2 separate regions of the Homo sapiens genome follow, and region 2 is linked to region 1. The links come from fine-mapping of genetic effects on gene expression. Tissue or cell type: gastroesophageal junction. Region 1 holds a variant in brackets; the other region holds the start of a gene. All regions are shown on one strand. Distances are between the middles of the regions. Region 1 overlaps SDHA (succinate dehydrogenase complex flavoprotein subunit A). Region 2 holds the start of PLEKHG4B (pleckstrin homology and RhoGEF domain containing G4B).

Evidence for each region. PIP is the estimated chance that this variant, and not a neighbour inherited with it, causes the effect.
Region 2: PLEKHG4B starts here. The variant in region 1 is the best candidate, but not a certain one, in a credible set for the expression of PLEKHG4B in gastroesophageal junction (GTEx, PIP 0.81).

The regions. Positions count from the first base shown.
Region 1 is chr5:239,656-242,567 of GRCh38, reverse strand. It overlaps SDHA (succinate dehydrogenase complex flavoprotein subunit A), which reads right to left. Exons shown (of 15, transcript NM_004168.4): 11 at 2,092-2,210. Among named protein-coding and RNA genes, the nearest start is that of SDHA, 23 kb to the right of the region's middle. The variant T/C (reference allele first, on the strand shown) is at 1,554.
Region 2 is chr5:90,807-93,718 of GRCh38, reverse strand. It overlaps PLEKHG4B (pleckstrin homology and RhoGEF domain containing G4B), which reads right to left and starts at 1,551. Exons shown (of 20, transcript NM_052909.5): 1 at 1,443-1,551. The coding sequence starts at 1,487. RefSeq lists an enhancer at 2,512-2,912.

The DNA.
Region 1 (2,912 bases):
GTGGGAAATCAGGGGTCTCACAGCCTTCAGAGTTGAGAGCCTTGAACAGAGATTTACCCACATATTTATTGAGAGCAAGCCAGTCATAAGATTTACTAAAAGTATTCCTTACGGGAAACAAAGGTATGGGCTCTGGCTAGTTATCTGCAGCAGGAACATGTCCTTAAGGCACAGATCGCTCATGCTATTGTTTGTGGTTTAAGAATGCCTTAAGCGGTTTTCCACCCTGGGTGGGCCAGGTGTCCCTTGCCCTCATTCTGGTAAACCAACAGCCTTCTAGCGTGGGCGTCATGGCCATCAAGAGCATGTCACAGTGCTGCAGAGATTTTGTTTATGGTCAGTTTTGGGCCACATTTGGGGGCCTGTTCCCAAAAATTTACCTCATTTCTTTTTTTTGCTTCTTACTATGAATAGCCAGACTCAGCAGAAAAATCCCTTCCCCAACGGAACGCATTTCCACGAGCAGAGGAAACTCTGTTTGTTCAGTGCTGACTCCAGCATCTCGTGGAGCCTGGGATACAGCAGGCACCAAGACACACCATGTTTGGTGGGAATGCTTCTAGTATTCTCACTTTAAACTATCTCATGGATTTGCCATTTCTATATCCGAAGGCATGTTCCCATTCTCTAATGCAATGGTTCTTTCTTTCCCAGCTGGCCTCCAACCCTACAATAGTACTGCAGGGCATCACTCAGCCTTCTGTGCCTTAGTCACACTGTTCTTCTCACCATTCCACAAAGCCTCCCTGAAGCCCAGCTTCACTTGAAGACTGAAGGGCACAGGCCTCTGAAAATGTCAGCAGGGAACCTGTTCTCCTGTGTCTAACACCACATAGGTGTTAGACACCTATTTCAGAATAGGACTAAAGCAATGGACTTTTTAGAAAATACACAGAAATTCTTGCAAATAGTAGGCAAGAGATCTCATTCATGGACAAGAATCCTTGTTATTAGAGGAATTCAGTTTCTTAGACTGACCATGTATCAGGTTCTCCACGGCCCCATGGCTAATGGCTGCCATACTGGATGGCAAACACTCGGAACATTTCCATCATCACAGATGGTCCTACTGGACCGACTCCCAGCAGCACAGGCCACAGATCAGTTTCCACCTGCCGCCCACTCTCCCTCTCTTCCGAGTATATTTAGAGGCAGCAACAAGTCCAGCTTAAAGACATTTCCGAGCTGCTGGAAGCCAGGCATGATGACATGATCGATATCCGGGCCTGAGATGTAAGCACCAGTGTTGTGTTGAACTCCAGGAAACCTCTAAGAGAAAGCTGCCCTGCTGGGGACTGAGCTTCTCCAGCGGTCCTGCAGTTCCCTCTCCTCCACGCTGTGACTCATCCATGACAGCCAGCAATGGTCAGGTCACGGAGGTCACACCCAAGCACACACGAGTGAACCACAGAAGGCTGTCCTGGATGCCAAGCAGTCACTAATTCTGCCCTAGTCTGCCGACCTTCTATGTGGAAAAGAAGTGCACTTCTGTATAGTTCAGGCCTCCTGGTCTCTTTCATATTCTTGATACGGTGAGGAGTACGTCCTACCGC[T/C]GTTTACCTCCAGATACTGGTGCAGCCTTATGTATTTATCGCAGCACTAGTCACAACAGCAAAGTCATGGAATCAACCTAAGTGCCCATCAACGGATGACCAGATGAAGAAAATGTGGTACATATATACCATGAAATACTACTCGGCCATAAAAAAAGAACGCAATCATGTCTTCTGCAGCCACACGGATGGAACAGGAGGTCACTATCCTAAGTGAAGTGACTCAGAAGGTCAAGTGTCACACATTCTCACTTGGAAGTGGAAGCTGAATGGTGAGTACACATGGACACATGGAGTGGAGTAGCAGAGACTGGGAGCTCCAAAAAGCGGGAGGGGTGGGGTTGAACAATTACCTACTGGGTACAACACACACGACTTGTGTGACGGGTACATGAAAAGCCCAGACTCCACCACCTCCCAGTACATCCACACAAAACTGCACCTGCATCCCCCTAGATCTAGTTTTTAAAAAACAAAACCAGTGCAGGGCCAGGTATGCAGCCCTCCTGCTCACTCCAGAGCGAGTCCAGGCTCTTACCTTCTGCATGCTGAGTCGCAGTTCCGATGTTCTTATGCTTCCATCAGCAAATCTCAATTTGTCAAGATTCATGACAGATTCTTCCCCAGCGTTTGGTTTAATTGGAGGGACTTTATCTCCTAAAACAAAAAAAAGCTAGAATTTAACTTTTGAAAACCGTTTTAAAAAACCAAATGGATTTAGAATGACACACAAACATGTAGCACAGCCACTCAAGGAGCTTGGAAACTCTGTAAGTCTCCTGAGCTAACACACTGCCAGCCCACCCTACAGCTGAGGCCATCTGTTGAGTTGGGGCCAATTTTAAAGAACATAAAGGCAAAATTGTTGGCACACAGTAGATATCCATTAAGTGATCTTAGAGTGAATAAACTAGAAATCATCTCTAAAATTAAAAAATTAAATGTAGGCCGGGTGCGGTGGCTCACGCCTGTAATCCCAGCACTTTACGAGGCCAAGGTAGGTGGATCACTTGAGGTCAGGAATTCAAGAGCAGCCTGGCCAACATGGCAAAACCTCGTTTCACTAAAAACACAAAAATTATCTGGGTATGGTGGCACGCGTCTATAATCCCAGCTACTCGGGAGGCTGAGGCATGAGAACTGCTTGAACCCTAAAGGTGGAGGTTGCAGTGAGCCGAGATCGCGCCACTGCACTCCAGCCTGGGCAACAGAGCGAGACCCTGTCTTAAAAAAAAAAAAAATTAAATGTATACAAATTTATATATATTAAGTGTATATAAATGTCACTCCACTAAGGGAAAAAAGAGACACCTTCCAGATGGTGGTCCCAAGGGGCCGGCCACCCTTCACATCAGCGGG
Region 2 (2,912 bases), 150 kb after region 1:
TTTCAGACTAGACCCACCCCCCAGAAAGGCCAGCAGCGCCCCTCTACCAGGATAAAAGATGAGAAGGCTCCGGCTAACACAGGGGACCTGACACCCTGGCCTACCGGCTGCCTGCGGGGTCAAGCCTGTGTGCTCCCAGCCCAGGCCACATCTGCATTTGCACACCGGATGCCGCACAGTGAAATAAAAACCTGGTATCTCCTCAGAAGCAGGAATATGAACCCACTTCTCGGTGGGGGGGTCACCAAACACTGCTTCCCAGTGGGTTGTGATCCCATAGGGAATGGAAATGCTGAATATATCACAGAATCTCGGAGACGGCGGCCTCCTCAAGATCTCCGAAGTTCCTTCTGACCCAGAGAGCCTGGAATTTTGTGAATTCGAGGCAGGCTCAGGGAAATTGAAAGCTAAAACTCACCTTTGTCCACATTACATGAAGATTTACATTAAATCTCTTCGGGAAGCTGAGAAACCTACCTTCCCAGGAATCTTGATTCAGGACCCACCCAGCTGCCTAAGGCTCAGTCAAAAGTATCAATTATGCACCGTTTCAATGACATTTAACTTAATTTTTAAATTATATGTTTCAATTCTTAATTAGACACCTAGACGTACCAACTAAACTTTTTAGGCAAAAGTGCTGTTGGGTAACAGGAGTAGAGTGTAATTACCTCACCTCAACCACTCTTTAGTTTCACACGAAACAGGGAAAGGCAAACCCAATATACTTTTTGCAACTCACATGAAAAACCTGAAAACAGCTTTATCACTCTTTCACCAAAGCTGAAATAACTGTCTTGTTTTACTAGCAAATGTTTCTTACTCAAATCAACTAGCACTCCAACACAAAAGTCAATCTTGGTATTTTTAAGTAAAAATTCTCTTTGTTCCGGGCCACCACAGATCACTGTTCTGTCCCACCGGTTTGAGCTGAAGAGTAACTTAGCAACTCTCAGTTTTGGCGATGAGATTTCAGACTCCCCTCCCCTGGCTCCCCTTCAGGCACCGAGAGGGCAAATCTGTCCAGAAAGCGTTATTTCTTCTCCCGAGTATTCACGAGGTTACAAGGAAAAGGGTGCCTGAAGAAGCTCCCTCCCGTTCCCGCAGCAGCCGCCGGCAGGTCCCAGGACCCACGCCAGGACCCCCAGCACGTCTGGGTACCCGCGCCCCCTCCCACCCCAGTCCCCGCGCCCGCCCGCCTTGATGCTCGCGCCTTCACCCCGCCCCTACCCCCGCGCCCCCACCCGCCCCTACCCCGGCGCCCCCACCCGCCCCTACTCCCGCGTCCGCTCGCGCCCCCACCCCACCCCTACCCCCGCGCCCCCACCCGCCCCTACTCCGGCGCCCCCCCCCACCCCGCCCCTACCCCCGCGCCCCCACCCGCCCCTACTCCCGCGTCCGCTCGCGCCCCCACCCGCCGCAGTCCCCGTGCCCCCTCTTACCCGGGCGCCTGGGCCGCCCCCGCCGTCTGCTGTGCTGAAACCCATGCTGGACCCTGGTCTCCCGAACTCCGACGCTTTCCCCGAACTCTGCCTGGTCCCGCTGTGCACTGGGCCGAGGCCGCCTTCGCCGCGCGCGTTCCCGGGGCCCCGCCCGATCCGGGCGAGAGAGGGGCGGGGCCGGGGTCTCCCCTAGGAGGCTCCGAGGGTCCGGCCGGGGCGGGGCGTCTCCCCTGGACCCGGCTGCGCAGCTCCCGCCTAGCCCCGGACGCGCCCACCTGGGCGGCTCCTCCCCGAGCGCGGGCGGCAGTGGCTTCTGCTTTTGTTCTCTCGGAGCCCGGAGCTCGGGGACCTGCCATTTTGTGGATGCCACGTTGCACCCGGACGGGCCCCTGGTTTCCATAACGTAGAGGCACAAATCTGAATGCTCCAGGGCAGAGGATCTGACCCCTGAGTTCTGCCAGTGTACCCGGACGGGACCCCGATTTCCCCTGGTCTAGGCGGACCAGCTCCAGATTTCTGCAGGTGTGGACGGCCCAGGCCCTCTCCTCCGTCCAGGGGCCGCTGTGGGAACTACGTGCCACCCCGCGCCTGGCTTGGATAATGAAGGGCTTCAGCGAGGGCCCCAAATTCCATCACCCTCCCCCCCCACAACTCAGGGTGCCTCGGGGTGTCTGGTGCTCTGGAACATGCTTTCCCCAAAGGTGCAATTTTAATGCCTTGATCTACAAAGAGCCTCCCAAAACAAAGTCCCTCTCCCGCCCGTTAGTCCAGGGTGCTCTGGGCACCAGCTTCCTGCTGGGAATTCAGCTAGGGAGTGTCTCATAAGGTCCACTCCGTCCAGGAGGGCCTCACAGGGACCCCACCTCAACCTGTCCCCTCAACTTGTCCCTCACCCCTACCCTGGCACCATCCCAAAAACTGCGGCACAGATGTGCTCATTGACAGATAATGCTCCGTTTTGTCACAGGTTACAGAGTGGATGAAGCTCAGGGACACAGCTGGGAGCCTCCCTCCTATGCAGCTCAGGGACACAGCTGGGAGCCTCCCTCCTATGCAGCAGGCAGTCAGTCTCCCTGGGATCTCCGTCGAGGCCTCCTTGAGTCTCTGTCTACTCCTTCCTAGAATCCCTGTCCACACCTCCCTGGGATCCCCTCGAGGCCTCCCTCCCTTGAGTTTCTGTCTACTCCTCCCTGGAATCCCTGGCTGCGCCCCGCCTTGATTCTCCATCTACACCTGTGTTCTCACTGTTCCCTGTCCTGCTTACTTGCTCTGCTTCCTAGAACCTCCAGCCCCATCCCTGAGCCCAGGCAGGGAGCTGACCTGTTCCTGCCCTCTGTGCTGGGTATCTGGGTGTCCCTCTGTGCTGGCCCCTACCTGAGGCCCCCAACACCCCTGCCACACCCTCCTCCCAGCCCGTCCTCGTGACAGTACTGCCCACGGTGCTGTCCAGGATGGGAGCCACCTTTCTAA